Regions from separate parts of the Homo sapiens genome. Here regions 1, 2, 3, 4 and 6 are each reported to be linked to region 5. Evidence: microRNA targets listed by miRTarBase, many of them from high-throughput screens and not tested one by one. Region 5 holds a microRNA gene; each other region holds the end of a gene's coding sequence.

Region 1 (5,025 bases), not on the chromosome of region 5:
ACAGGGTTCACGTCAGCCCCTTTAGAGCTTGAAGCATCAGGAGGCTAGAAGCTGAGAGAAAGGAGGCTTGGATGGCTGCTAGAAACTGGGCAGAGTTTGAAGAGGAAAGAGAAAGCAGGATGGAGCTTCCTTTCAACATGGCTTGTATCTTCCATCCACATGTGGACTCTGGCTTGTCACCACCATACCTGCCTCTGCAGGGTGCGAGATGGGAAGCAGCTCAAGCCTGTTGCAATTCAGTTGCAGCGAAGCCTGTAACAATACCAAAAATCAATCTCAGTTAGAAAATATATAGCCTTTTTTTTGCCTTTGCATAGGGAATAACTTCAAAGGAATAAAATGCAATTAAAATCAGAAAGGAACAGATCAATAGATGACTTCACGATTTAAATTTTTTTTTTTTGAGACGGAGTCTCGCTCTGTCACCAGGCTGGAGTGCAGTGGTGCGATCTGGGCTCACTGCAACCTCTGCCTCCTGGGTTCAAGCAAATCTCCTGCCTCAGCCTCCCAAGTAGCTGGGACTACAGGCGCCTGCCACCACGCCCAGCTAATTTTTGTGTTTTTAGTAGAGATGGGGTTTCACCATGTTGGCCAGGATGGTATCGATCTCTTGACCTCATGATCCACCCACCTCAGCCTCCCAAAGTGCTGGGATTACAGGAGTGAGCCATTGCACCCGGCCGGCCCCACAATTTAAAACTTCTATGAGAAAAATTAAACAAAAATTAAAAGGCCATCTGGACAAATACACAGAAGTTTGACAAAAACTAATATTCTACTATAAGTAGCTGATACATACTAAAAGACTCTAAGAAAATACACAAAATAGGGAAAAGGTATAAACTGGTAACTGACAAAAGTAGAAATTCAAATGGGTAATATAAACAATGTTCAATGCACATTAAAACATGTTTGATGATAATAAAATATCAGATCAAAAAATTATATAATCTCCAATGCTGGCCAACGCATGACAACACTAAAAGATTTTCCAAGTGTGAATCAGTACCTCTCAGGAAAGCGGTCATTATATATCAAAACCTTTGACCTAGGAATTCTACTTCTAGGATTTATCATAAGAAAATAAAGATAAGACCATGCTCATCACAGCATTAGTTATAATCAGAAAAGCAGAGACAAAAGCAATTCCAAACTGTCCAACAGTAAGAGATGGGTTAAAAACATCCATTAATTTTCTTTTTAAGACACGGTCTTGCTGTTGCCCACAGTGGAGTGCAGTCACGTGATCTAGGCTCACTACAGCCTCCATGTCCTGGGCTCAAGCAATCCTCCCACCTCAGCCTCCCGAGTAGCTGGGACCACAGGCATGTGCCACCATGCCCAGCTAATTTTGCTATTTTTTGTAGAGACGGGGTTTTGCCATGTTGCCCAGGCTGGTCTCAAACTCCTGAGTTCAAGCAATCATTCCGCCTCAGCCTCCCAAAGTGCTGGGATTACAGGTGTGGGCCATCATGCCCAGCCTACAGTACATTTTACATTTGTCTGACTTTGGAGATTTTTGTCTTAATGCTAGGAAAGTATTTAAGCAGTTTTACTTTTTGTTTTTTTACTGTTCATTAAGATAAAAACTTTATATAGTTAAAAGTTTCACAAATAGACCAATTCACTTTACTGATTTTCACATCTCTTCAAGTTCTCCGCATGTGCTCTTGGACCCAGGTCATTTATGTCTGTTAGGCTTTGCTCCATCCTTCCCCAAGGACTTCTCCCCTGGCTCCCTAGCCTGAAAACATGCTAAAGTTATTCTCCTAACAAATATATGTATTTCCCAAAGTCCTGTCAATTGTCTCTTAATCTCCACAGTTTATGTGCCCTAGTTTATGACCTATTGCTTGGATGTGAGCAGGCTTTTAACTGATCTCCTCGCTTCTCAACAGGTTGCAGAATGATCTTCCTGAAATAGACTAATCAGGTTACTTCCTTAGAGCTACTTGTGAGCTCTCCTTTACCTACAGGAAGTCAAAGTTCCTTAACAGGGCAAGCAAAGGCCTGGGATGAACTGACCCCTCCTCTCTTTCCAAAACCACTGCCTCCCATCCCTTTTGACTATCCTCACTTTGCCTGTTAAAAATCCAGTAACATCCAATATGGTGCCATCAACCTGAGCTCTCCTTTTGCTCTCCTGTGTCTGGATTATCTTGTTTCTGCCTGGCTAACTTCTTTATCCTCATCCTTCAAGAATTAGTCTGCACTTAGAAAGCTTTTCCAGACCATTATCACCTCAGTGCCCACCCAACGTTTTGCCTGAGATAAGGATTCTCCTCTGTGCTCCCAATATTACCCTGTAAATAACTCTACCAGAGACCTTACCAGATGGCACTGACATGTTTTCATGTCTGTCATTCACTCCTCAAGTGCAGGAACTTGGAACTAGTAAAAAATGAGTGCTCAAATGTTTGTTGACATAAAGTCTGGATCTCAAATGGAATGTTTTAATGTAATTGGTTCCAATTTAGGTGTTTAGACTTTGGTTTTTAAAAAATATGAACTGGACCTTATAGTACTGGTATTGTTACTTTCATTTTACATGGAAGACAAACAATACATTTGATACAGCTTTTATCATCCAGCACTCACAGTCCAAAAACAAACAAAAACAACAAAAAATAGCCTAAAGGATTAATGACTGTCCTTTATTATTGCTGATAATTTTATACTTAGATTTTAGCTGGCATGTCTGTGGGTGACATAATTTTTTTCTTCTTGTAAACTACCACTATTTTGTCATTTTCGGTGTAGCTCACTACCCACCAGACCTAACACTATGTGTTTTAGAATCTTTGATTTCCTGTCCAAATACTATTCGTTTCTCCTTTTTCCATGCTGAAGGAGCTTTATACTTTGTACATAAGAGAGTATCATTTCCCCAAGATCCCCTTTTTCATCAGAGAGCAACTCGCCTTTCAGAATACGGCTTCTCCTGGTCAGCTCCAGATTCAGGCGTCAGCTCCAGTTCCTGCCTCAGCCTCCTGAGTAGCTGGGATTACAGGCACCTACCACCATGCCTGGCTAATTTTTGTATTTTTATAGAGACATGATTTCATCGCATTGGCCAGGCTTGTCTCGAACTCCTGACATCAGGAGACCCGCCTGCCTTGGCCTCCCAAAGTGCTGGGATTACAGGCGTGAGCCACCGCGCACAGCCGCCACTTTTATTTTATAAAAATACTGTCAAAGAATCACCTTAGCCTTTCCCCTGCGGCAACTGGTCTTGGAAAAACATGCTTTGTTTTCCCATGCTTAAGTCTTGAAAGTGTTCAATTCTTTATAGAAATAGCATTTCACACCATGGCAAAGGGGTTTAGAAACAAGACATACTAATTCACCTAAGTCTTTATTTATTTGGCTCTAGGAAGAATTTGCATGAAAATGAGCCTGTATGGCAGGTACAGAATGTACTGTAACAGCACCAGAGAGGTACATCCTCTCTCCTCTACAGAGCCTCAATGTTTAATACATACATGTGACTTTAGTCATAAAACCACATAGTCCAGGAAAAAAGGAGCCCTTTAGAAAAAAAAAATCAGTTTAGAATGACTTTCAAATTGACCATTCCTTTTCAAATACTTAAATTCAAATAACAGATACATTCAGAGGCCCAAATGTTGGCATAGAATAAAATCATGTTCATTTATTTTTTTCTGCATCTTAGAATTAGAAGGCATAAAATTAAATATGTTGAATGTAATAAATTCATCCATACAAGTGCAAGTCTCCAGATATAATGCATTTTATGGCAGATTTATTATTTTAAAAATGTACCAGTAAATCAAAAAAGAGGGAGTATGTCCATTTAACTTTTATTGAAGTGTATGTAGGAGGTCTTCAGAAATCAAATGTGAGCATGAAGATATGGCCAAACATAAAATCTATCAAATTCAGTGAAAAGTTGCTGACTTTAAATAGTAGTTGTAAGAATGACCAATATATATTCTTTGTTAACAACCCCTCACTCTATAGTAAAAAAAAAATAAAATAAAATAAACATTCAGTAAACATTCTTTCCTAAGGTAGTTTCCCTTATATAGCAGTGATTTATCCATTTCTTTGTATACACAAATTTGTTGAACATACCAATCAGTGGTTCTCACAATTGAAAAATAAAAGCACAAAAAAGTTTACACTCCTGTACAGGTAAATAAAAGATCACCTTGAATTAAACTGGATCTCCTTAAGGGCATAGTATAGTTTCAGTTTCATTACCTATTACATAATTAGTTTCTTACATACAAATATTGACATATTTGGCTTGTGCTTCGAAGCCTTTGTGTCTATGAAGTCCACATCAATGCAGCTCATAACTGGAAGTCACTGGGGAGTTCTTTGCTGCTGCTGGGTTTAACCTGATCATGCATTAGAGTCTCCTCAGCACCTGTTGTGGCTCTGCACACCTCTGGGGCATCGTCAGTGTCAGGATCCAAGCCTTCAGGGCAGGGAAGTTTCAGCAACTCTTCGCGGAGCTGAGCAGTGTGACGCTATGCAGGAGAAAAGGACTAATGTTAGAACTGCAAACCCTCTAGCACAACATCATTTGAGGCAGGAACTGAATTTCAACAAAGCCCAAAGCATTAAGCCTACAAATATTTACTGAGCCCCTCCTTATGCAAGCTACTGTTACAGGCACTTGATATAGTAGGTAAGCAAAACTGACAAGAATCCTTAACCTCAAAGTAACCGATGTTGCTGAAAAGACCTCAGTAACCCACCAGTAGATCCTACCCATGCTGCCAAGCTGTCACAGAAACAGCATTACTGACAATTTAAAGGACATTATTAGATACATATACTCTTTTTTTTTTGAGACGGAGTCTCGCTCTGTTGCCCAGGCTGGAGTGCACTGGCGCGATCTCAGCTCATTGCAACCTCCGCCTCCCGGGTTCAAGTGATTCTTCTGCCTCAGCCTTCTGAGTAGCTGGGAGTACAGGTGGGCGCCACCACAACCAGCTAATTTTTTGTATTTTTAGTAGAGATGGGGTTTCACTATGTTGGCCAGGCTGGTCTTGA
Region 2 (5,232 bases), not on the chromosome of region 5:
AGAAGGAAGTGAGTACATAGAGGTATTTAGACTTGACATGAAGCAACACGGTTGGTAAGCTGGAGAGAAATAGGTTCATAATAATACAGTGTCTAGCTGCTGGTTTATACTCTATTGGAAGGGGAAATTGTTATTTTATAGCATTTCTCACATTCCTCCCAGTATTCGTTGGTATGTTCAGGCCTTCCCTCCTCTCCTGGAGTGCAAGCACCCTGCAGGCAGAAGTGGTCTCATTCTTTTTTGGTATTCCTCCATAAATGGTACCTTGTCCCTTGTATAGCAGGCATACTCCCAAGTAATTGTTGTACATACACATGTGTCACAGTTATCATTGAAGAAATCCTCATTGCCTTTTCACAAACCACTCTAAACTCTGAGCTCTTCATCACTGAGAAACCAAGGATCAGACCCATGATCTAGATTTTTTTTTTTTTTTTTTTGGAGACAGAGTCTTGCTCTTTCATCCAGGCTGGAATGCAGTGATGATATCAAAGCTCACTGCTGCCTCAAACTCCTAGGCTCATAGGCTCGAGTCATCCTCCCACTTGGGCTTTGGCATCCTGAGTAGCTGGGACTGTAGTTGTGTGCCACCACGCCTGGCCAGTTTTTTATTGTTTTATTTTTATTTTTTGGTAGAGTCAGGGTCTCTCTTTGTTTTCAAAGCTGATTGCAAACTCCTGGCTTCAAGCTATCCTTCCACCTTGGCCTCCCAAAGTGTTGGGATTTTGTTGTTGTTGTTTCCCTTCTGTGGGCAGGACCCAGAGTCCCAACTCTCATAAATCCATCTTTTTGCCCCCCTTTAGATGGCCATGCTGCTGAAACTTCAAGAAGCTGCCAACTACATTGAGTCTCCAGATCGAGAAACCATCCTGGACCCCAACCTTCAGGCAACACTTTAAGGGTTCGGCAATCACTGTCACCCCCGGACAGCAGAACGCTGGCATCAGCTATCTTAGCTCCTCCTCTCCCCTCTCCTCTTTCAGAGCACTGGCTCTCCAGCCCCAGGAGGAGAACAGGAGGGAGGAGGAGATGAAAGAGGAGGGACAGGTTCTTGGTGCTGTACCTTTGAGAACTTCCTAGGAAGGAATGGTGGGGTGGCGTTTGGGAACTTGTGCCCCCTAAACACATTTACTGGCCTCCTCTAATGACTTTGGGGAAAAGATGATTCTGGGTCTTTCCCTTGACTTCTTGTTTCAATTACAAACTCCTGGGCTTTCTGGGGAGGGGTTCAGAAAACATCAAAACACTGCAGCAGTTCCTAAATGATTCTCACAAGCAACCCTGAGAGAGACAGTCTTGTGAGGGAGATCTGGGGGAGGCAGGAAGCTCCTCAGATTTTCTCACAGACCCTTCCCAATTCCATCACCACTGCCAACAACTCCTCCCCCAGAGATCTGGCTGGAGCCCAGAAAAAGAAGCATGTGGTTTAAAAAATGTTTAAATCAATCTGTAAAAGGTAAAAATGAAAAACAAAAACAAGCAAACAAACAAAAAACAATGGAAAAGATGAAGCTGGAGAGAGAGGAACCAGTTGCCAAGGTAGAGAGCTGCCCGCTCCTGCCCTCTGGATGACATAGGGGACATCAACAAGACGGCTGCCAACCTGAGAAGTCACCAAACCACAAAAATAACCTTACAGCCTTCAGGGAAAGACTACCAGCTCTGTCTTTCTACCCTCTAATTTAACAATGCATAAGAGTCAATAAACCCTACTTTTTTATTTTTGGTTTTTATTTTGTTTTCATTTTTTTCTCCCATTTGCCTATTTATTTTTTTGTTTCCCTTTTTTTTTTCTTTTTCCGTTTTTCCATTTCCTCACATGTCCACGAGATGCTTGGGTTGCTTTTCCAGGGGCTAGTTTGGCTTTTCCAAGTGGGTTTTCTTTGGAGAATCTGATGCCATGCAATTGGCATGACACCTGCCATGCCACTATCTTTGGCATCCATGGGGCTTATATGAGACATGAAGCATTGGCTCAGAAGTAGAGGGAGAAGAGGAACCCAGTTCCCTTGACTTCCCTTTTGAGAGCACACGTTCTGCTGGGTAGCTCAATTGCCAGCCTCTGTCATGAGAAGGTATAGCCCCATCTTGATAGAAGAGTTACTCCGAGCTTTATCATGGACCAGAGGAAAACCAGAAAACTGAAAACATTCCTCTGTCTTGTGGCCAGTTTGGCCTTTCACTGCACTATTCTGATGGTGCCTGACTGAATCCAAATATCCTAGCTGGCTCTTACTATTTTTCACAAATGAGTATTCACATATAAGAGATGAACATCCATGTGAGATCATCCCAATCAGAATATAAGACTCAAGGAGTTTGACTTGGTGGCCAATACCTGCCTTCCAAAGAGATCCTACCTTTGCAGATTTGCTCCTTTCCCATTGCCTTGAAGGTCTGGCAATCCCTGTTCTTTCATTTGACAAGTACTTACTGAGTACTCACTATATACAAATCATTAGGTTAAAACAGACACACACACACACACACACACACACACACACACACACACACACACAAGACCTGGGCCCTTAAGTTTACAGTCCAGCAGGAAATGTTAACCTCCATTCAGCTACGCCCCCTTGTTATCTAGACCTTCGGGATCATCTAAGAAATGTAGCTGAAACCCAAGGAGCCAGCTAGAAAGAAGCTTTTGATTAGATGTACAATACATTGGGGGCAGAAGATCTGGGATCAATTAAGATGGAGCCTGAAGGACTATGGAATCTTGCTTGTCAGGAATGGGCAAGTCTACTTCCTGCCATTTCTGAAAGCCCCGCGGGACCAGCTTCTAGGCTGAGCTGCCTAGTAGGCTGAAGCTTCAGGACTCTGCAGGTCAAGGATATGTGATGAGCACCGGCCTAAGTGTTTGCTCTTCAGATTCCTAAGTAGCACAAGACTTTATCAGAATCTATAGGCATACCAACCTGGATCACTCTTCCACCCAACCGAGGAGTAGATGCATCTGAATCTTCATATCGGTATATTAAGTCCAAAAGATGGTCCGGGCTGCCCCTCACAAAAGCTTCTGCATCCACGTGGTAAGCTCCCATGGATGACAGGGTTCTGTATGATGGAGACTATTATTGCTATTGCTGCTAATTCCATGAGCTGTGAAGATCCCTAACCAACTCAGCTGTAACATATGCAATTCTGTGGTGGGAAGAGGCTGTGTGTCCAAGGATGGTGCTGAAATCACTGCCTTAAGGTCTCTGCTGTGCAGAATGAGGAGGCCCCCGAGCTGGCTGTTCTAACTTAGAAGGAAGAGAAGACTGGATGGGCCTGCTTGGGATCTAGGCCTCTTCTAAACCCTATCCTAAGCTCCAGTTCCATGGCAAGGCTCAGACTTTTAATGCCATCTTAATCTGATGGTTGAGCGCTTCACTCTATTTTCTGGTGCTGCCCAGCCAGTGCCTTCTGCCATGGATGTTACTGGCTACTTGAGAAAAAGGAGAGGGGAGAACCCCTTCTTTCATTCCAACTGCCTCCGACCCCAAAGGGATTCTTGGCTCTCTGGTAACCATGGATACCACCATGAATTTTATTTGGATCCTCAGCAGGTTGATTCTGGAGGCCTCATGCTATGACTTTTTATTTCTCTTCCTGGGATCCACCACCCTCTACTCTCAGCTGACTGCTGCATTTAGGCCAGGTCTCCAATTGCTTTCCTCCAGAAAGTGTGTTCCCGTCTAGTGAGGTAGTATTGAAGCCTCGGCTTTCCCTCTGGAGCCTGGGACCCTGTTTACAGTTGCACATCTGGGCCCCTCACTGTGGGGATTGATCATTCTCATGAAGGAATCACAGTTATATGGCAACTGCAGAAGGCTGAGCCTCCTCATGGTGCTATAACCCCTTGGGACACTCATCCAGACTTCTCTGAAGCAGAAAACCTGAGCTCCCCACTCACTGCCCTAGAATTTATGGCAAGGAGCAAATCTACAGCATTCTCTCCCACCTACGTCCTGCTTCTTGGTTGAGACTACTGGGATCCTTCAGAAAAGAAACACTGGGTCCCATAGCTAAATTCTCAACCGCCAGGCACCTTCAGAAGAATCCAGCCTAATACTGGAATTTGTGCTATTATCTTCCTCTCCAGCCCCCCAACTCCATCCCTCACCACAGTTGTCTAGGAAATGACATGAATTCAATATCTAATGTCAACCAATGGGGAGAGCCACAACTCCAGGAGAGGTTCCTGAGCTGAGTCCCTTAATTTCTGGATGAAGAAGACCAACAAGTTTTGTCCAATGTATTTGTTTCTCAGACCTTGCCTAGGCACTAAAAATAAAATACTAGGTCATTGGAGGCTAATGTGGGACCTGATGTCTGCGTGTGTGTGTGTGTGTGTGTGTGTGTGTGTCTCCCTCTCTCACACACACAAGAGCAGTTTGCTGTTGCTGTTTCCTACCTTCTGAGGCTTCAAAGTATTTTTTAAAATCTATGCTTTGTGGCAGCTCTACGGTGCTTATCTCTGTCTTTGTGTCAATCCTTAAGTACCCATGTCTTTTTCATGTCTAACCATTGGGAAGGTAGAGGCTGGCAGGGAAGACAAATCTGCTACAAGTCCATGGGAAGACCCTACAATGAAATGTTCATTGGTTGGTATACTGTTTTAGTCTTGAATTGCCAACTTTCCAACTGATCTATCCATATTCCTTAAGTACTAAAGACAAAATAGAGGGCTTCTTTTTCTCTCTTAATGTCTTGCCTTCTGGTTTTCCTGGTTTGCAAGACTAAGTGTACCTAATCTCACCATCTCTTCACTTCTAGCTCTCTGAAACAAGGGTCACACTACTCAGAGGGATAACCCCTTACAGTGGTCTGAGGAGTAACTATTTCCTAAAGTATTCTAAAAGAGTAGGAAGAGAGAAATGGTAGCCTGCTGCTTCTCACAGACACCTCACATCCTCACTTGGGATGGCATCCACATAGAAACCCTGCATTTAGGTAAAATTTGCCTGACTGAAGGGGACTCAGTCCTCCAAATCAAGGTCAAGAAGATATCTGCATGAGACCTTAAGAACTCTTTATTGCCATTATTTGGAGAGGGCGGGGGAATTGTCCTAATCACACATTTAACACAGGGAATAAGTGCTGAAGTGACCCAGATCACCAAGCGCAGTTCCTCATCATACTTTATTTTTGCTTTCCTTATTCCTTGGCACTGACTAAGCTAAAGTTAAGAAGCCGACTTCATAAGCCAACCCCTGTGATGGGATGGAAAAATGGGCT
Region 3 (5,033 bases), not on the chromosome of region 5:
ACACTCACTAGGTTCCGTTTCACTAATTTTGGTAAAAGTCTGTAACTACTATAAAATATTATTAGATTCTTAATTGTAATCGCAGTAAGCCTTGCAACCTCTTATAGTTACAGAATTGGGGTAATGTGGATATTAGTATCTAGGAGGTAGTTCCTTGCCAAAGAACCTGTATAAAATAATAGGTACCTTGTGCAGATCATTTATTTGGGGTAAAAAGGAAAAGGGGAGGTGCTTAATTGAAGAACCAGTAAGAAAGTTTGTCCTGAGGCCTGTGTGCCCATTCAGTGCCAGGAAGCTGGGCATGAGCCAGTTGTTTCTTCTCCCTCCTAAGGACCAAATGAGTGAAAGTTGGTTGAAATTGCATCAGGAATTCTTATTTATACGCAAGAAATACTTCCTGCCAGTGAGAGTGGTCACTGAACAAGGTCCCTAGAACAGGTGTTAGACCCTTGTGAGTGTCAAGCAGCCCCTGTGTGCAGGGCTGTGTCGTGGCAGCCACCAACCTCTCAGTCTGCCCTCCAGCCTGCAGGTAGATGGTGATGAGGGGCAGTGCTCCCACTAAGGCACTGTCTCAGTAGCAGGCAGGCTTCTCCATCTCACCATGTAAGGACCAGAGGCATGCATGCTCCTGGGATGCTCTATCAATATGGCCCATCTCAGTCATGCCTGAATTGGCAGAAATGTTCAGCGAGGGATGCTAGGGAACTTCCTCTCTGTCTCCTTATTCTGAATTGTCATGCCTATTGCAAATCTCTGTGCAGAATTCACATCTTTACTCACATTCCTTAAAATCTTCTAGGACCACAAAAGGCTCTTGGAGTCTCAGCTTGGTTAAAATCGCCTCTCTTGTAGTGACGAACAAACATAGGCTTGCCTGAGTAGTCTGCTACAGGAGCTCTGTGAGCCGCTGCCTTAAGAACGCGGGTCATCACTAGTGATCTTTTCAGAACACATACTGACACTTCCCTGCGTAGGATCACGCTTGCCTCCTTGGGATTTACTTTTGCTCTGAGAGCAGTGAAAGAAAAGAGACTTGATCATTTCTGGTGCCTTAGAAAGCTGCTACATTCGGGAGGATGAGAAGCTTTTGTTTCAGGAACAAGCCAACCTGTACAAGTCTCTGTATTTTGTGAGACTAGTCCCAATCTTGTGAGCAAGAGTCAGGAAATCAGGCCCAAGGGTATAAACTGACCTTCCCTTTTTTTTTTTTTTTTTTTTTTTTGAGATGATAGAGTCTCACTCTGTCCCTCAGGCTAGAATGTGTTGGCGTGATCTCCACTCACTGCAACCTCCACCTCCTAGGTTCAAGTGATTCTAGTGCCTCAGCCTCCCAAGTAGCTGGGGTTTCAGGCATGCTACCATGCCCAGCTAAATTTTGTATTTTTAGTAGAGACAGGATTTCACCATGTTGGCCAGGCTGGTCTCAAACTCCTGACCTCAGGTGATCACCCCCCTCAGCCTCCTAAAGTGCTGGGATTACAGGTGTGAGCCACTGCGCCCAGCCTAAACTGACTTTTTTTTTTTTGAGATGGAGTCTTGCTCCATCGCCCAGGCTGGAGTGCAGTGGTGCGATCTCGGCTCACTGCAGCCTCCACCTCCCCGGTTCAAGCGATTCTCTCCTGCCTCAGCCTCCCGAGTAGCTGGGATTACAGGTGAGCGCCACCATGCCCGGCTAATTTTTGTATTTTTTAGTAGCGATGGGGTTTCACCATGTTGGCCAGGCTGGTCTCAAACTCCTGACCTAGTGATCCACCCACCTCAGCCTCCCAAAGTTCTGGGATTACAGGCGTGAGCCACCGCGCCCAGCCTAAACTGACTTTTTAATAGTGATTGAGCAGTCCATGTTTACAAGTAAGATGAGCCTTTTAAAAATATATACATATACATATAAATACATACACACACACACAGAGACATTTTTATAGTCAGTATTTTCTAGAACTGTGTCATACTTGTCTACACCTAAATAAGCTGGGTGACCATTCTGTGGCCATGAGCGAGTTCAGACAGAAAAATTCCACAGTGCCCAGCCTCTCCCTGCTCACTCTGCATGGGCACAGACCTGTTGATAATGCACCTGCCTACCAGCCTCTTCCTGAGAAGAGTAAGGCCATTCTGTTTTGATTTTGGTAGATAATCTTGTGCCGTGGAAATCAGAAGGGCAAAACGAAGCAGTCATGATGAGAAGCACACCTCAGAAATCAGGACATCCCCCCTATCAGGTGGTTTTGGAGAAAACAAGGAAGGCGGAAGAATGGAGTGCAATTGTGTGAGCAGAAAGGGGGGCAGGAATCCCGGGTGCTCCACTGCTTAAACCACAGGACCTGGTTAACTCCTCACCAAGCTTCCCACGACCCTGGTTGCCAATGGGCGCGGGAGACATTGTATACACATCATGCTATTTAAAATACGTTCAAACTATAGTGTAAATGCTAATTAACCATATTGGTATATAACCGGAATTTTATATTAAAAGGGGCCTCCTTTTTAAATATATGCCGTGTAAAAAATGTACTTATAGGAACATCTCTTTGAATTGTATTTCTTGTATATTACATACTTAGAGAGAGACTCTTTTAGCCAGGCAAAGTCTTTTTTGGCTGTGGCTGGAATAAATCATTTATTACTTGGGAGTCCCATTTTGGACACTAATAATAAAATCATGGCAATGCATTTTTGAGGTTTTTATATATTTTTTTGTTTCCTTGTGGTTATAGGGGACAGGAGGAACTCTTTAACTTCTTTTAAATGCAGTCATTTCACCCTTAAAAGGAGAGGAAGGGGATTGGGCCACAGACTTATCCATGGACTCGTCTGCTCTGAGATCTGGAAAACGACCTAACTTTGGTCTAAATCTGTGCTCCTCAAGGCATTGTTTGATAGAAATGTAGGATTTCAGGATCTACTCGAGCCCTACTGAGACGGAATCCGGATTCTCACAAGATCCCAGGTGATTTGTTTGCATATTAAAGATGGAGACCAGTGAGTACACTGGTTTGTGGAAGGAAAAAAAGAGAAAAGAGAGAGAAGCTCTGCCCTAAATACTAATTAGAATGGATTTACACCAAAATGACCAGAGAAACTGGGAACCAGAGAAACAAGGAAACTAAAATGTATTGAATGTCTGCTCTGTGTCAGGTAATTTGCCAGGCATTTTCATGTATGCCTTTATTTAACCCTCAAAATCAACTTGCAGGTTAGGTTAAACAATTGCCCAAGTTCAAAAGCTGGAGCTGGCACCTGTGCCTGACTCCAAAGCCCGTGTGCTTCCCATTAAGGCACACTCCCTGCCCAGAGCCAGCGCAGCTCAGCTGCTCTCGGGTCGGCGTGGAGGAGGGACAGGATACAGAAGGGATATGCAAGGCTAACTCCAAAACTAAACTCCAAGACTAAACTAAAGCGTGTGTTTGTAAAGAGGGTAAAAATGAAATTTGGAAGCAAACTTGCCTAATTTCCAGGTACTCCTCCTCGTGGAATAAAAATTGGTCTGTTATGCGGCTTGACAGCGGCAGGCAATTTGGTAGGGATTACAGCAGGGAGTTACTGAAGGGTCCTGAGTGTAATCTGCGCTGGAGATGTTGTCGTTGGCAATGTCTTGGAGGACGTCTGCAAGAACCTTTCTGACCTCGGGCAGCACAGCCTGGTACTCCGCACCACCTCTTTCTAGGGGCACAGCTTCTGCGGTATCGTCTTCCAGGTTGAAAATCAGAGGAAACTTATGCTGCAGCTCAGGCCCCGTGCTCCCATCACACGCCCTGGCTCCACCTAGAGAGGGAATGACAACAAATGCCTCGCTAACCCTGACAGTTGCCCTGTGTTGTAAAGACGAGAGCTGCGAGTGATTCTACATTAATTCAAACATACCAGATAACCAAATGTTCCAATGATGGCTCTCTCTGTCAAAGAAATATTACCTTGAGAATCTATTTGCTCCTTCCAGTGATGATCCTGTGGTCCAAAATGTTTTGCTTTTTTCATTTCTGTTTTTGTTTTTTGAGGCAGGGTCTGGCTTCGTTGCCCAGGCTGGAATGCAGTAGCGTGATCCTAGCTCACTGCAGCTTCAGCCTTTTTGGGCTCAAGTGATCCTCCCACTTCAGCCTCCCAAGTAGATGGGGCTACAGGCATGCACCACCACGCCCAACTTTTTTTTTTTTTTTCCAGAGACAGGGTCCCGCTATGTTCCTCAAGCTGGTCTCAAACTCCTGGCCTCAAGCAATCCTCCTGTCCCAGCCTCCCAAAATGCTGGGATTATCAGCAGGAACCACTGCAGCCACACTAAAATGATTTGGAAGTTCTCCTTGAACTCGCCTTCAGGGCCAGTAGAACATTCATTCAAGTATCTTTATTGACACAAAATCAGGATATAATTATTTTTTCAAGTTGGAGTCTCGCTCTGTCACCCAGGCTGGAGTGCAATGGCACAATCTTCAGCTCACTGCAACCTCTGCCTCCCAGGTTCAAGCAATTCTCCTGCCTCAGCCTCCTGAGTAGCTGGGATCACAGGCACCTGCCACCACGCTCGGCTAATTTTTGTATTTTTAGTAGAGATGGCGTTTCACCATATTGGCCAGGCTGGTCTGTTGGCCAGGCTGGTCTCGAACTCCTAACCTCATGATCTGCCCACTTCGGCCTCCCAAAGTGCTGGGATTACAGGCGTGAGCCACCACACCAGCCAGGATATAATTTTTTAAAGTATCTTTAACCTCTGCCCTTTAGGAGTAAATTTGATTTTTTTGAAAATCGATTTCTTGACTACCAATTGGTGAATCAAGTAGAAAGGCAGGTGAGTCATTTCACTTTGGGTTGAAGATGACAGTCTTACGTGGATTCGAATCTGGCTGTGAAAGCCATCCAGAAGAGGAAGGACAAAAATGTTTGGAATGATAGCAGCTTCCTTGGCTCTTTATGATTCCGATGACTTTTTTTTTTTTTTTTTGGCTTTGCTATAGAAAAAGCAGTTAAGGGTCTGATGGAAATAAATATGACATAATTAAATAAACAAAGGGAATTAAAGCAAAAGATAGCCCTCAAAA
Region 4 (5,232 bases), not on the chromosome of region 5:
CGGCCTCAATGTCGTGGAGAACCTCGCGTTGCTAGTGCTCACTTATGTCTCCTCCTCCGAGGACTTCAGTGGGTGCCTGGATGAGGGAGGAGTGGGGAAGTGTTCCCTGAGGGGACGGGCCTGCCCCTACCACATTCGGACCTTCCTACTTCGTGGTGTGGGCACTCCCTGCAATGTGGCTCCCAATCCTCTTTCCCTCCAGCCATCCACGAAAATGCTTTCATTGTGTTCATTGCCTCATCCCTCGGGCACATGCTCCTCACCTGCATTCTCTGGCGGTTGACCAAGAAGCACACAGTAAGTCAGGAGGTACGGTCTATCCCTAGCGGGGGCTCCAAGGCAGCCCAGAAGAAAATCAAGGACATCTGTCCTCAGGATTCGGGTAATGGTGAGGTGGGAACTGAGTTCTAATGGGAACCCTGGCAGAGGGGTGCTGGGGTTGGGGCTGGGGCTTGGGAACAAACTGAGGGTGGTTGGTCAGAATCTAGGACTATAGCACTGTGTTTGGGTAGTGTGGGAGACTGGAGAATAGAAGAGATGGAGGCTGCAAATGGGGATAGAATGAGGAGTCGCATCTAGGCGGCAGTGAGTTAGGAACAGTGTCAGAGGACTGGTCTGTCATAATTCCAGCGCCCCACCCATGTACATGGGTTTCTTTTCCCCCACAGTATTTGGAGGTGGGGTTGGTGGGTGACTCCATGTAACTTTCATACTCCATCCCCCTGAAGTGGAAGCGGCAGGAATACCACTGCTCCTCGGCCCATCACTCCCCCAGAGGCAGGGACGTGAACACATAGTCGTCATTCTTGCTGCCCCTGCCTGTGCTCCCTTCCATGACCGCTAGTGGGAGCCAAGGGAGATAAGGCCCAGCCCTTAGGAGTTAGGGCTGAGAGGGGAGCCCACGCTCTCATACCCAGCAAGCTGCAGAGTGATCAGACAGCCCATTCCCTAGGATCGCAAGTCCTACAGCTGGAAACAGCGGCTCTTCATCATCAACTTCATCTCCTTCTTCTCGGCGCTGGCTGTCTACTTTCGGCACAACATGTATTGTGAGGCTGGAGGTGAGGCCAGGATAGGATCCACAGGCGGTCATGAGTGGCTGCGGGGCAGCAATGATGTTTTTGATAATGGGCAATGGTCTTGGGGACTGGCTGCCATTGTGTTCTCTGTGGCAGACCAATGGTGGTGTGATTTATCAAGAGGCCTCTGAGCGGGTAGCTGGAAGTTCACCATGTCCTGTTCCTTGTGTCCTCACAACAGTGTACACCATCTTTGCCATCCTGGAGTACACTGTTGTCTTAACCAACATGGCGTTCCACATGACGGCCTGGTGGGACTTCGGGAACAAGGAGCTGCTCATAACCTCTCAGCCTGAGGAAAAGCGATTCTGAACCCTTCAGTCCTGCTTGGGAGGACGCAGCCCACTGCCCAGAAACAAGAAACACGATACCATTCTGGCCTTCCCCACCCCACATCCTCTCTTGGCCTTACTGAAGATGGGGGAAGGGTAAGAAGGAAGGGTGTAGGCCAAGGCTCACCCCAGTGCTGCTGGCTTCTCCTCTCCACCCCTCATATGGGCGTGGGGTCCTCAAACATCACCTTTACCTGAGAGGCCCCAAGAAGCTGAGCTGGCAGAGAGCTCCACCATTTGGTGCTAAAAAAAAAAACGTCCTGAGGTTCATGACCACCATCCAGTTTCTGGCCTTTACACAGTCACCTTTCACTGAGGTCAGGAGCCCCTGAGCAGTGGCTGCTCCCTGACAACCACAGCCATTTCTCTGCACGGGGGTCATTCATAGGACTAATGTATTTCATGATCTACTGTGCACATCCAGGCCTGTGGCCACAGTCCCCTGCTAAAGTTGCTCAGGTGTTCTAGTCCTGACTTCACCTTTTTGATTTGGTGTGTGCCCTAGGGTATGTACCCTTCCCCATCTGAGCCTCGGTGTGTCCATGTGTCTGGCGGGGGATGGGTGGACTGTATGATTTCCAAGGACTCTACCAGTCAGTGGTTCTGATGTCATCGGGTGGAGGTGGTGTTCTATACCTAAAGGATGACCTGCTCCAGAAACAGCACCAGCACAGCATGTATTTTCTTCTCTTCTGAAAGTTCTGGCTTGTAGACCCCTCCCCTCCTTTGCAAAGGTATGGGATAGAGGGGTCAGATGCAGATCTCTACTGTAAAATGGGCTCCCTGGTATCTCCTGTCTTCCCTACTGCTCCAAACCCTAAATTTTGGTTGTACATTTTATTTGAAAGGAAAATAAATTTTTTTTTTGGGCCAACAGTTGCCTAGGCTTGCTAGTCTTGGGGCTCATCTTGTTTGATAGGAACTGGGAGAGAAACAGGCTCAAGAATGGGGAGGGAGTAAGTCCACGGCAGGGTATGATTCCTAGCAGAACCCCCCAGTCCCCCTTAGGTCTGGAGTCTCCTAAAGCTGGTCTAAGCCTTTATTTTGGTGAGCAGGAGTGAGTGAGCTATCTGTAATGATTCTAGGACTGCAAGCTAGGGTACCTGGAAGTCTTCAGTTGAGACAGAGACCTGGGTTCAAATTCCAACTCTTGTTGTTAAAGCTGTCCTCTTGGGGATGTGAGGTACAGCTGTCACATGCATGACTGTGGGAGCATCTGCCTTTAGACTAATGGCTCTGAACCTCTCCCTTTCTGAGCCCTAAGATCAAGAAGTCTTTCCTCAGGTTTTGTGTCTGAGTCCACTACAGCATCTGTGACTGGGCCCCAGAGCAAGACTGCCCCCTCCAAGGGAGCCTAGAGCTTTGTTAGGGAAATTGAGGGGTGAGGGGACCACAATGAAGCCTATTGTCTACTAGAAGAAACAAAAGGCTCCCAGTCTCTGGGGAGCCCTAGCCCATGCCCACCCGCTAATGCCCAGCACACAGGGAGGAGCCGGGGCCACTGGAGACAGGAGGTTTTATTGATGCTGATGGGGGTAGGAAAGGTCCCCAGAAGCATGGGGGCTGAGTCAGTCAGCAAATGCGTAAGGCCTAGGCACAGAGGAGCAGGTTAGGGCACATTCACCTTCTCAGGATTCTGTGGCTCCCTCATTGGAGAAGGGAGAGAGCATCTTGGGGGCGCAATTCCAAGAGCAGCGAGGGCAGAGGTTAGAGATGGCTGAGAGCCCCTAACCTGAGGCGGCACCACAATAGGCAGCAACAACTGTGTGGAAAGCTGGATGAACTGGTCAGTAGCGGAAAATGGGAGGGGGCACTGGGTTGGCCTCTTGGGGAGGGGTCCAACCTTGGCTTGGATGAGCTCATGAGAATACCCAGTGTTCCCAAGCAGAGGGGGGCAGAGCCCAAAGCCCCTTTCTCTGCAGGCCTCCTTAAGGAGAAAAAGGCACTCAGAGAAAAAGGCATTCAGGGAACCCCCTGGAAAGGGGTGCCAGAATTAGTCCTTAAGGCACAGCTGAGGCGGACAAGGCACCAAGGCACAACTGGTGGGGGGAGGGCAGGGGCAGCCTCCAAGCCAAGTGCCAGGGTCACAAGAGGATGCAGGACCGCCCACGCTTGATCGGCGTGGGGTTGAGCACAGCCCGGACAGCCTCGGCGAACACTTCCTTGACACCATCCTGTTGCAGGGCTGAGCATTCGAGGTAGCGCACAGCGTGGATCTGCTTGGCCAGTGCCTGGCCCTGCTGCGGTGTGATGGGCGCCTGGCCCTGCTCCTTGAGGCGCCGTAGGGTGTCAGGCTGGGCTCTCAGGTCCTTCTTGGTGCCCACCAGCAGGATGGGCACATCAGGGCAGTGGTGGCACACCTCTGGATGCCACTTGTGCCGCACGTTCTCATAGGACGGCGGACTGGCAATGGAGAAACAGATGACGAAAACGTTGGTCTGAGGGTAGGAGAGTGTACGGAGGCGGTCATACTCCTCCTGGCCCGCAGTGTCCCACAGGTTCAGGTTCACTGTGCGCCCGTCAACTGCGCTCTGCGCGCTGTAATTGTCGAACACGGTGGGGATGTACTCTTTGGGGAAAGCGTTAGTTGTGTAGCAGATGAGCAGGCACGTCTTGCCCACAGCCCCATCACCCACCACCACGCACTTGATGCTCTGCATCGTGGGTGCAGTTGCTGTAGTGGAGGCAGTGCCTCCTCTCTCTTCTGGACCCCTCTGGCTGCAGTGACCTGTGGACAGATGAAAGGGGACATTCTTGGTTAGGGAGGCCTCTGCCTATTGGGAAGAAAAGATGGGGGCACACAAAGGGAAACCGGCTCCTGTTCCCTTAACCTGACACTATCCCAAAGTCCCATCAAGACGGTCATCAGAAAGACACACAATGAAAGGCCCTGAGGCCAAGCAAAGAGGCAGTATAATGTGGTAGAAAGCACATAAACTCTGGCGCCAGACAAACTAAGGTCAAATCCTGATTTTGCTATTTCCTAGCTGTGTAACCCTGAAAAAATTGCTTAACCTCTGTATGCCTAAGTTTTCTTACCAGTAAAATGAGGATAAAATAATATCTACCTCACTGGGTCATTGTGAGCATTATATAATACATGTAAAGCATTTAAAACAGTGCCTCGTCCACAAGTATTAGCTATTTTTTTTTTTTTTTTTTTGAGACAGAGTCTCACTCTGTCACCCAGGCTGGAGTGCAGTGGCGTCATCTCGGCTTACTGCAAGCTCCGCCTCCTGGGTTCACGCCATTCTGCCTCAGCCTCTCGAGTAGCTGGGACTACAGGCACCCACCACCACGCCCGGCTAATTTTTTGTATTTTTAGTAGAGATGGGGTTTCACCGTGTTGGCCAGGATGGTCTCGATCTCCTGACCTCGTGATCCGCCCGCCTTGGCCTCCTAAAGTGCTGGGATTACAGGCGTGAGCCACTGCGCCTGGCCAGTATTAGCTATTTTTTTTTTCCAGGCTATACAGACACAAAAGGAGAGTGCACAAATTTAGGGATCTACTAGATCCTCTACTAAATATGGACCCTTTCCACCAGGAGACTGGAAAGTGTTTTGGCACAGGACAGCTGTCCCAGGTCACTCTGTGATGCAGCCATAAGTAGAACCTCTCTCAACTCAGGGCCCACCCTGCCCTCTCCAAACCTGGTATCTTGGCTACTGAGTACAAACCCAAAGGCACAGTTAAGAAACCTGCTGAGTAAGGGGCTCAATTCTTTAGAGAGCTGCCCTATCCCAATCCAGGGTATTCTGGCAATGGGGAAATTTTTTTTTTTTTTTTTTTTTGAGATGGAGTCTCACTCTGTCGTCCAGGC
Region 5 (5,232 bases):
AGTGTCCAAAGACGGCGAACAGCAAGATAGCTCTCAAGGAATTACAGAACTTTTAGAAACCTTAGAGGTCATCCAGTTTATTCTAGAGATGGATAAATTGAGGTCCACACAGCAGAAAAATCTTATCTAAGGTATTGAGTATTATTTTTAGGGCAAGATCTGAAACCCAGGACTTCTGACATACTGTGAAGACTCTTGATAATTTACCTACAAATCCCTCCATTTCTTTTTGTAGGAAGAAACCAAAGAGAAAGAAAATTAGATTTTAAGGCTTGGTGAGGGTGGCGGTTTGCACGAACAGGATGGATTTCCCCTGCTCTTGTACCAGGGTCCTAATCAAACTCACATTTGAAGTCCCAGAACCACAGTGTTCACAGAGCCCTGCATAGGTGTCAAAGCAGAGTGGAGTCCAGATTCTAGTGGCTGACTCTAGTGCGTGTGATGAGAGACCTTAGGAAGGAGGAGAGGCCAGACAGACCCAGAGCTGTGGGCTGGCTCTTCCTAACTGGTCCAACATGGCAGACAACCTATGCACCGTTGAGATGCTGAGACCATCTAGAGGATATGCCCAGTCCCAAAAACACATAGTGGAAGAATGTTGATACTGGTTCTCATGTCAGAGGTCAGGCAGGGAGGGTCTCAGTCACTTAGCCTTAGCTCCAGTTTCTTCAAGATGCACATCTCCAGCCTAATGCCAAGTGGGAGGAAGTCCCAAGTCAGCAGGTTCATGGAAACTGACCCTGATCTATCACAGAGAGGAATATAAAAACTGGGTACCCTCACCTGGGCCTTTGGCATCCTGACAGTGGTTATTGGTTCATCCTGTTCGCTCCCATAATTTCCAGCTAAGGAAGAGAACAAGAAATCAAGAAGGACCCCAGAATTCAGTGTCTTCCCCTCAGACTCATCACTTGGCTTCCCTTTCCTTCCTTCTCTTAGTCTCAAAGAGGCCCTTCATCAGGAGGCGCACTGGCCACCATCTCTGTGAAAGTCAGTGTTCTCAAACAACAACTATGATTGCAGGTTCCTCAGTCCAAACCCTACGGCCCCATTTGTTTTCCTGTCTTTCTCTCTGGCTAGAGAGATATATTTTCTTTTGACACCCCACTGCTCCTCTATTAAACCTCAAATGATCTGGGATGAGTGTCTATCAGCCAGAGCATTCCTGCTGACCTCAAAGGATATAAAGGAGACTCCTGAATTGTGGAATGTCAAAGGGGGCTTTTTCCTAAAGAACAGCATTGAAGGTTTGCTAGACCACTGGGAACTGTGGATTGTCTCTTGACTTAAGGGGCTAGAGGAATGACTGTGATGGAACCACTCAGCTGTTGGGGGGATTGGGCCTATGTTGCAAAGCATGCAGAAGATGCTTTTCTAAGTTTAATGTCTTGTCAGACCAACTGGTGTGACTGAATGGAGTTTAGAGGCTCAATTCAGGCATGTGATAGGATCACAGATGTCTGAGTGTTCTTTCTTTCCTTGGGAAGGAACCATGCTGTCCTGAAGCTCCCGAGTATGGGCATCCAGTGATTTCCCTCCCGTTCTTCTCCCTTCCTACTGTGTCTCCCTGGGGTGGGGCACAAGGGCAGCAGGGCTGCAATCTTCGGAAGTGTTCCAGTGGAACCCCACTCCTGATACTAATCACGCTCAGTGGGGGCCTGCTCCGGCTTCCGCTTCTCCACGCTGCTTCCTCTGAGCGCTCCTGTCCTCTCTCTGACGCTGCTTCCTGACCTTGACTCTGACCAGTCGCTGCGGGGCTTTCCTTTGTGCTTGATCTAACCATGTGGTGGAACGATGGAAACGGAACATGGTTCTGTCAAGCACCGCGGAAAGCACCGTGCTCTCCTGCAGCATGGCCCGCCACCGCCGCCACCACCGCTGGACACCTCTCCTCTGCTCTGGAGCACCGCAGCCCACCACCTGCCAGACCCACCTCTCCCAGTCTCAACTCACCAAAGGCAGGAGGGTAGGAGTCTCAAAGGATGCAGATACAGAGGGAAATGGGTCTGGAGAAGCACCCTGGGGAAAGAGATCTGTATCCACATCTCTTTCCCAAAATGGAGTCACCCTCCCCCAAATCTAGTCTGGATGTCAGACAAGGAGTAATAACTAGGTTCAAGCTCAGAAACTACTGTGTCTCTTCTTCCACTGGAAGGGAACAAGTATACCCAAGGCATACGCCCCATGGTTTCATGGGAGAGTCCCAACCCAAGGTCATTTTTCCAAGTGGCAGCTAACCCAAAGGGGAATTCCTACTGCTTGTGACCCCCGACCCCTCCCACCACCACCTTTATTGGTATTCACTTTATTTGAAATGAACGTCAGCATGAGAATGGGTGAAACTCATGTGAGTCTGAGACTTTGGGTTTAACCCAAGGTTCCTTCTGAACCTCATTCCCATACTTTATGAAAACACAGTCCCTGAACCCCATGAAACCTAAAGTCCAGTCTGTTTCCTTGACCTGCAAAGCACAGTTAACGTGGAGGTGCTGGGCTCCTCACCTGGTGCTAATTCTGTTTCAGGGGAGGGGAGTGTGTGTGGACGTGGAAACCTGCTATCTCTGATAATAAAGAGAGGGATCTTGGTACCTCTTATTTTGCTTGTTCCTTGATAAATCCTAGACCCAGTGTAACCAGAAGACTGTGTTGTTCATTCCTGTCCTGGAGTCTTTGTCCTATTCTGCAAGAGAGAGCTAAGGTGGGAACTTTAGCCTAGCTCAGAACTAGAAGCTGAGCCCTGGGCCCCCATCATGAGGTGTGACTCTTATTACCTCGTCTATCTGAGGTTACCCCTCAGAACCAGGAGCCCAACCATTGCTTAGTAGTTTTTTAACATACATTGAGTGCTTGCTATAGGCCAGGCAGTGAACTGTTTTCACATCATTACCTTGTTTAATGTTCACAAAATCTAAAGTCCCACTTTACAGATGAGGATATTGAGGCTCAGAGAGGTTAGCTAACTTACCCAGGGTCATCTGATTCCAGAATGGCTGCACTGTACTGCTGTAATACCCACCTTCCCAGCTGTGGACAACCCCATTGCCTTGAATTAGAACATTTAAAAACTGTGATTTGATAGGGACTTGAAATTTGCTTAAACTCTCCCTTTCAGACTTTCATCTGTTAGTAGAAAGAACTTGAGTAAGAGAGAAAGCATTATTCAAATGGCTGTTCCTCTCCAGCATGGACATACAAAGATCCCATTTAACACAGAGCAAATCCTCGAGCCTGGAGAAGTTCCCTTTCCCACCTTACAGAGAGGGGCATTCTGAGGCCCTCGGCACTGCCCCTAACATGGCAGGGACCAGGCCTCTGGGAGTGGGTCCATAATGGTGCCCTTCCATCAGTGCTTTACTGGCCCCGCAGCCACAGGCTGTGATGAGGCAGTGCCAGCCTCAGACCATGGGTATTTCCCTCTGTTTTCAGGCAGATGGCTGCACTCATAATAGACTCCAAAGGGGATAGCTTACTAGGACGGCTCCCTGCCCAACTGGTGACCAAACTCCTAGTAAAACAGTTGGCATCTTCCAGCCACTGGCAGCTGGTCCCCCAGCCTTGCCCATGAGTGGATGTCTGTGTGCCTGGCAGTGTTCTCCTTAGTCATTCATCACTTATGACCCTTTGCTTATTCACATCACTGTCTTTTCAAGCTGATGAGGCCTGACAGGACTTACGCTCCCCCCAATTCCTCTTTCTGCTTCTTTCCTCCTTTCTTTTATTCCACTCATCTTAGGGATATTGGGAATAGGGGAGGAGAGCTCTGGAAACATGAGTTAGCAAGTCCATGATGATCAGATAACAATGAATTTATGACTCCCAGTCAGCAAACTGGCTGCCCAAAGGATGATACAAAATGCATACCGTTGATGGCAGCAGCCATCCTGGACCTGGTGCTGGCCTCTGATCCCAACCCAGCCAAGTCCATTCAAACATGGGAGCTTGGCTCCCTACCTGTCCCACACCCCTGGTCATCCAAATGTGACAAGTGTTCCTCCTGGGAAGTGGCTGTAGGACAGGGATGTATAATAAAATTGTGTTGCTGTAATTTCCACCTCCTACCCCCACCCCCCCGTCTATTAAAGCTTGTCTGTGATCACGTACCAAGTGTCGTTGTTCTGAGCTGCCCGCGAAAGGGGAGGAGGGCTCCAGGGGCAGGAGCAGGCAAGATGCCAGATGACATCAGCTCTTCCAAGGCTGGTTTCAGCCGAGGTTGAGTTTTATGGCCCTTCTTCAAATCCTCTGGGATCTCTTCTGTCTGAACTCACCCCAAAGAGAAGAAGCAACAGCCTATTGCAGTCGGTCCTCTATTACTAAGTATTTCTGGCAGTGACAAATATGCACTGAGATTGAAATTGACTTTTAAAGCTCTGGAAAAGTTAAAAATACTTTGGGGTAGTTATGAGCATTAGGCATAACAAATGGCTCTGAGAAACCCTGAGTAGTTTCGGTAATGAAATATGAAGTGATGGAGATGGCATTTCGGGCTGGCTCTGACTGGGGAACGAACTTTTTCGGTTATGTACATACGCCGTTATTAACATTTCTGGCTCCCACTCGTATAAAATATCACATTCCGACCCCCTTGTTATTACAAACCAGGGCAATAACAAAAACAGCAGGGGGAAAAATGCTGGAAAGAACACATTAGTCCATCGAATCTAATTGCAAAATCATTTCATTAAAATGGGTCAGCGGCTCCATTGCAGAGGTCCACCAGTTATAATCTAACTATACTACTGAGAGCGATTCCTGCTAACTACAGGCTGCTCTCACCTTGATTAAAATGAAAATGCATTTAATAGGCGGCTGTCCCCAGCCACAGCCCAGCCGGTGCACGCCTTCAGGCTCATCGCCTTGAAGAGCAAACTGTTCTTCCTCCTGTCTTTCTGCCTTTGATCAGCAGTCAGGGTTCCTTCGCTTTGCAAGGATCCCATTATAGACACATTGTGAAGGAAAAATCTCTGTATGTGTGTGCAATGCCCCTTCGTGCCATCACTCTGTGGATCCACTGGTGCGGAGAACAAGAGAAGGTAGTCATCTGACAGGGTTTGCAAAATGAAATTCGCCCAGGACTCGGCACGCTGATGGGTCTGGAAGAAAATGGTGCAGGTCAGAGTTACCAAAAGGGACGAAGCTGGCAAGCCAAGGGCAGGAGATTTGCATAATACAATGAACCAGGAAGCCACTCGAATAACTGTGGGGATACGTGCACGGAGTTTGCTCACACAAGCC
Region 6 (5,232 bases), not on the chromosome of region 5:
ACAAGCTGGCTGTGGTCAGGGTGGAAACAGGAAGAGAAACCACACTTAACCTACGACTTCTAAATAGTCGGGGCTGAGCTAGACCAGAGTTGGGCTTTTCTTTGAGTTACAAAGCAAGTCTCTACTGATGTTTTATACCTTTTTCTTTCACTAGTCTTCAAGCTGTTGAAACATTTTTTCAATTACTTGTCATTTGCTGTTGTTTTGTCTAGGTGAATCATCACGAAAACTAAGTAGAGAAAAAAACAAACACCCCAATCATCAGAGAAAGGATATTTCAAAACTGTCCATATTTAGTCATTGACTAAGGTCTTATTGAATGCAGCTTTATTGATAGTGATGAGATTACAAAATAACACTACATACATTTTAGTTTGTTGTTCCTTATATAGTACCAGAATGTTTTAAGCAAAGAAAGAAATTTTTTTGCCAAAATTTGCTGAATAAATAAAAAGTTTTTAAAGAATATCCAGGACAAATAATTTATTTCAAATTCCCTGAGAGGGCAAATTAAATGGTCTTTACCCAGTGAATGTGCTGGAGGGTAAATCTTTAATATTTTAGATTGTTTAATTCTTATAATTACGAATAAAGGACTGTTTGGAAAATTATTCTGTAGGTTTTTTGGCATGAAAAGAAATACTGAAAAGTATTTCCTTTTAATGCTGCCTTGTGCTGGAGAACATATTCATCAGCGGCTGGAATAGGGATGTAGTTCATTCAGAGATTACATAAATTCATTTGGTTGTAACTAAGGGAAAAAAATTAATGAGGTGATTTTAGTTTATTTCGTCTCGTAACTTGGATGAGTTCTGAAGACACTTGGCCAGGATAACCAGCAAAAAAATAAAATTAAAAAATTGACCTTTTAGAACGTACATATTTCCAGGTAAACCTCTATTTACATGTGTATTTGTAAAATACACTTACTACAACTGCTGCTTTACCTTAAATCATAGAACCATTCAGTACTCACTTCCTCATGACATCAATTATACCTCCTCACTCATAACACTTCACTACCATCTAATCATGTTTTAAAATTATACGAATCTGTACCATCACTGACCTTCTATTCAAAACCATTCTTACAACATAGGAAGTAAAAATAAAATTCATTCAATGCACTGAAAGCAACTAATGCATCAGGGATGACAACTTGGCACCAAGAACCTAACTAAAAATGGACAAAGTATGTTAAAGTTTGGCTTCCTGGAGACTTTCTCATCAGGTCTCTGGCCCATTTAGAAAAAGAGAGCTTGAATTTTATTATTTCAGTTGCTGGGTAACATGCAATTTCCCTGATATATTGAACTGATGCTTTTATTTGATCACAGGACTCAGCCGTTACAAAAATAACAAGTCATTTTCTTTAATAAAAAATAAAAGGAAGTATATGGTTGGGTCCTAAGACTCTGGAGTAATTGAATGTAAGCTTAAAACATACTAAATATTTTCCACTTGGGAAATCTGGAGAAACTAGGTTTCTAGGAGCAACTGCTTCAATAGTTGGTGTAAAGAATATGTTTCACTTACACATGAAAGTGGACACATATTATTTTGATTCTGCATACTTTTATGTCTTTCAATTGGCAATGCAAGATGTTCCAGGATATGAAACTTTCACCGACCCTTACATTCCATACTCCTCGCCAATGTGTTATGTCAGAAATTCTGACATTCCAAATTCATATTGGTCTTTATTTTCCTAACTGTTGAAGCAGAAGATAGAACAGCAATGCACCCAAGAGTCTGGTAAGCTCAAATATGTGGATTTTCTGAGTCTTCAGATAAACAATGTAGAAAATAAATTAAATGGTAATTTTAAATGATTTATCCAGCACTAACATGTCTCCAGTTTCATCTCTAGAAAGCCACTGCCAAGTTTTTGCACAACCTAATTTATCAAGCTTTGATAGATGAAAAATCCTCTAGTTTCAGTATCTCTTCTCATTATTCCATCATGTAATGTTGCAATTGATTGATTCTCATTTCATTTCAAGCCCTAGGTCCTCCTCTTCATACAATACTTCTAAGATGTCAATGGGAACACATCTATTGGTGTGCATCAAGGAATTACATCTATTCACTCACTTATGATCTGTAACCCACAATAAAACACCCTTTTCTCCAAAAATTAACCATATACTATAGGCTTCTCAGTTGTATGAGTGTGTGCGTATACACACATATACATACACCAAGGTAATATACCATATCCACATATACCAAGGTAAAAGATTCTTTGTGTGGGATAAGGAAACAGCCCAGCGCTTTTACATTAATAATATCTTGTTCTTAATTTACAGCGTTTGTAGCCCTTACCTGAGTGTTATCATTAAATATCCAGAGATTGAACTTTTCATCGGGGTAATGATATAAAATTGTTCCACAAAGTGTACTATATGAACCACTTTTCACAGTTCAAATAACATATTTTAGAAATAAATATCATAACTAGCAATAACCTATCTACACAAGGTGGAGAGGATGAGATTAACAAAAACCAAATTATATTTCCATATATCTCATGTTCAATTCCTAAATAGCTTGTTTTATTTTTCAAAATCCAATTGCACATAACCCATAATTGATAGGCCACTTCCTCTCCAAAACAAATAAACTGTCAAAGAATAAAGTGATAAATTATAAAAAAGGAAAATATGTATCATTTACTACAGTCATTCCCTTTCCCCAAAACTTGGCAAACATATAGGAAAAGTGCTATCAAGTGGGTACACTTTGATTATAAATCCAAAGCTCATTTGGAGCAGATGAGATTAATAAAAATAGGACAGAATGAGTATATATTTTTATATACGTGAGATGAGTGCTTGATTTTTACTTAAGAAATCAGGAGGATCCATATTAAATGGGAAACAATGGCATTTATCAACAGGAGAACCCATTCATCCAGTTACTACCAAATCTACAAATTCCAAATGTTTCTATCATTCTTATCATATAAAAGATTGGGGCAAATAAAATTATTGTTATTGGTTGTGTAAACTTCAAGCTCTCTAAGCTTAAGGCTAATGGTCCTTAGGGACATAGTTTTATTTGGTGATCTTCGCGGGGTGTACATTAGGGCCAAGGTTGCCTTTAACCAGGTTGGTGTAGTTTTTAGGGTGAGGGTAAGGCTCCCAGGGTATGTGAAATTCTTCTTTAATAGAGGACAAGGGATAAAATGCAAATCCTTCTAGTTGAAACAACCAAATGACTTAAATTTATGCTATAAATTAAATGATTCATATCAATTACTTCATTGAGAGCATGATTTTATGGTAGAAAATAAACTGGGGCCTGAGGCATGGAGGAAGAGGAATGTCCGCTAACACAAAGGTTATCAAATTTAGGGTCCCTGGGTGGAATCCCTATTCCTTTTCGGTCAGATCTTGTTTTAAGCTTTATTACGTTGTCATGGGATATCTTTCAAAATCCTTTACTCAATCACATATGGGGGGAAAATTGCGTTGAAATACAGAATTAAATCTTAAGTCTTTATGGAGATCGACAATTTCCATTTTTAAATAAATAAAATCTATATGAATATCTTCAACTTCCTAAAGAAAAAAGAGAGAGAGGAAAATAAACTTTTGAACATGAAATCACTTACATAAACCTCAAGTGTACTAACGTGTAGAGGAAAAAATCTCAAATGTGGGTGTAACCGCTATACATTTAGGAAACATGCCGCCTTGGGAGAGTGCCTATAACGAATTCCGTCTGCCACCCAGTGGCCGCTGAAATAAATTGTTTCTTTTGTTGGCCATTGCCCTGTATTTTGCTAAAAAAAAAAAAAAAAAAAAGAGGTAGATTATGCCATACCAGGAATTTAAAGCCATCAGGACATGTGCCTCGACATATTTTACAATACAATCAGTGTAGTAAATGTTAAATATTTTCCTTTTCGCGAACTCAGAGGTTAACCACGTGGCTCTACGAATAAATAACGTGTTCTTCCTGCGTCCCTGCATCTACCTGGGCTCAGATACTGACTGGCACAGAAGATACCGAACTGGCCCGGGATTCCCGAGTCACGTTGTTGGGCATCGAGAGGGTGCAGCAGGACACGCCGACAGTGGCCTCGGGTAGCTCGTCGTCCTCCGTCCACTCGTTGAGCTCGGGGCTGAAGCACTGGATGCACTTCTTGTACTTCTTCTCGCCCTCGTTCCAGCCCCCCACCAGGTAGGCGCGGCCATGCAGCGCCGAGACGCCCGCAGTGCTCACTCCCACCTGCAGCGGCGCCGCGTAGCTCCACTGGCCGGTCGCGGGGCTGTAGCACTCCACGGTGAGCACGTCCACGCGCTCCCCGCGCGGCCCCAGCTGGCTGCCGCCCATCACGTACACTCTGTCGCTCAGCGTGACCGCGCAGTGCCAGCCCCGGGGTGTGCTGAGGTTCGGCAGCTCCTGCCACGAGTCGCTGGCCGGGTCGTAGGCGCACACAGAGCGCGAGTAGGCGTTGGCTATGTAGCCTCCGGTCACCAGCACGCGGCCGTCGGCGACCGCGCTAGCGTGGCAGCAGCGCGCCACCTCCAGGGGCGTCTTCGGCTGCCACTGATTGGTGGAGGGCACGTAGCACTCCAGCGAGGCCAGGCTTCCTTCTGCGTTGCGGCCGCCCGCGGCGTACACGAGCCCGTTGAACACGCTCAGGCTGAAGTGCGTGCGCTTCTGGTTCATGCTGGCCAGGTGTATCCAGGTGTTGAAGCGGGGATCGTATCTGGAAATGATAGAGAAGGTGTAACAGCTTTGTCGGCGGCAGCTGGGGACCCCATGTTACTTTGCAAATCATGAGTGGGAAGCCTGACACTACCCCTGCAAGGAGGCGAGGGACCTGGCCCAGCACCTCACCTGGAGGCTGGAGTTTCTCTCTCAGCCAGTAAAAATGTGTGACACTTGGAAAAGACAAAGCAGGCATTGACCACCCCTCGCCCCCGTTTATAAGCCTCTCCTCCGTTTATAAGCACTCCCTTTATGGGGCCACTTGGAGAAGAGCCCACAGAGACTGAGCTTTCAGTCCCCCTTTCCTCCATATTCAAATATCTATCATCCAGTGGGATTTACGAGATGTGCACATGGGGGAGGCTGGGCATTTGTGACGATCAGAGGAGTGGCGATCAGAGAAGGGCATCGCCATATTAAAGTCAATTCTGCATATCCTCAGATGCCAACCATTCCTAGCTCCCTGTCACAGTTTAAGATACGAATTGACTGACTGGATTTCTCCATTTC

Evidence for each region. Region 5 holds the annotated microRNA hsa-miR-218-5p (UUGUGCUUGAUCUAACCAUGU, at 1,765-1,785, shown strand). A microRNA usually pairs through its seed, bases 2 to 8, with sites in the 3' UTR of a target mRNA and lowers its output. Matches are read on the target gene's strand: a 7mer-m8 pairs with bases 2 to 8, a 7mer-A1 pairs with bases 2 to 7 and ends in A, and an 8mer does both.
Region 1: miRTarBase lists BIRC6 as a target of hsa-miR-218-5p. Seed matches in the 3' UTR shown: 8mer at 4,271-4,278.
Region 2: the mRNA of NAV1 is a reported target of hsa-miR-218-5p. Seed matches in the 3' UTR shown: 7mer-A1 at 2,891-2,897.
Region 3: the mRNA of ARSG is a reported target of hsa-miR-218-5p. Seed matches in the 3' UTR shown: 7mer-m8 at 3,263-3,269.
Region 4: miRTarBase lists PGAP2 as a target of hsa-miR-218-5p. The part of its 3' UTR that is shown has no 7-base or 8-base seed match.
Region 6: the mRNA of KLHL31 is a reported target of hsa-miR-218-5p. Seed matches in the 3' UTR shown: 7mer-A1 at 671-677.

Annotation. Positions count from the first base shown.
Region 1 is chr2:32,617,196-32,622,220 of GRCh38, reverse strand. It overlaps BIRC6 (baculoviral IAP repeat containing 6), which reads right to left. Exons shown (of 74, transcript NM_016252.4): 74 at 3,343-4,496. The coding sequence ends at 4,317. Among named protein-coding and RNA genes, the nearest start is that of TTC27, 8.3 kb to the left of the region's middle.
Region 2 is chr1:201,819,034-201,824,265 of GRCh38, forward strand. NAV1 (neuron navigator 1) reads left to right here. Exons shown (of 34, transcript NM_001389617.1): 34 at 804-5,232. The coding sequence ends at 899. All of the region lies in intron 1 of IPO9-AS1 (IPO9 antisense RNA 1), which reads right to left. Among named protein-coding and RNA genes, the nearest start is that of IPO9, 7.5 kb to the right of the region's middle.
Region 3 is chr17:68,418,921-68,423,953 of GRCh38, reverse strand. It overlaps ARSG (arylsulfatase G), which reads right to left. Exons shown (of 12, transcript NM_001267727.2): 12 at 3,140-3,765. The coding sequence ends at 3,491. It overlaps WIPI1 (WD repeat domain, phosphoinositide interacting 1), which reads left to right. Exons shown (of 13, transcript NM_017983.7): 13 at 2,134-2,673. The coding sequence ends at 2,181. It also overlaps a transcript of PRKAR1A not described here. Among named protein-coding and RNA genes, the nearest start is that of MIR635, 3.1 kb to the left of the region's middle.
Region 4 is chr11:3,824,068-3,829,299 of GRCh38, forward strand. It overlaps PGAP2 (post-GPI attachment to proteins 2), which reads left to right. Exons shown (of 7, transcript NM_014489.4): 4 at 1-68; 5 at 203-309; 6 at 953-1,061; 7 at 1,261-2,304. The coding sequence ends at 1,391. It overlaps RHOG (ras homolog family member G), which reads right to left. Exons shown (of 2, transcript NM_001665.4): 2 at 2,911-4,139. The coding sequence starts at 4,071. The coding sequence ends at 3,496. Among named protein-coding and RNA genes, the nearest start is that of RHOG, 14 kb to the right of the region's middle.
Region 5 is chr5:168,764,764-168,769,995 of GRCh38, reverse strand. It overlaps MIR218-2 (microRNA 218-2), which reads left to right and starts at 1,741; the gene lies at 1,741-1,850. All of the region lies in intron 14 of SLIT3 (slit guidance ligand 3), which reads left to right.
Region 6 is chr6:53,647,611-53,652,842 of GRCh38, forward strand. KLHL31 (kelch like family member 31) reads right to left here. Exons shown (of 3, transcript NM_001003760.5): 3 at 306-4,720. The coding sequence ends at 3,988. Among named protein-coding and RNA genes, the nearest start is that of KLHL31, 16 kb to the right of the region's middle. RefSeq lists a silencer at 3,521-3,815 and enhancers at 4,187-4,246, 4,277-4,496.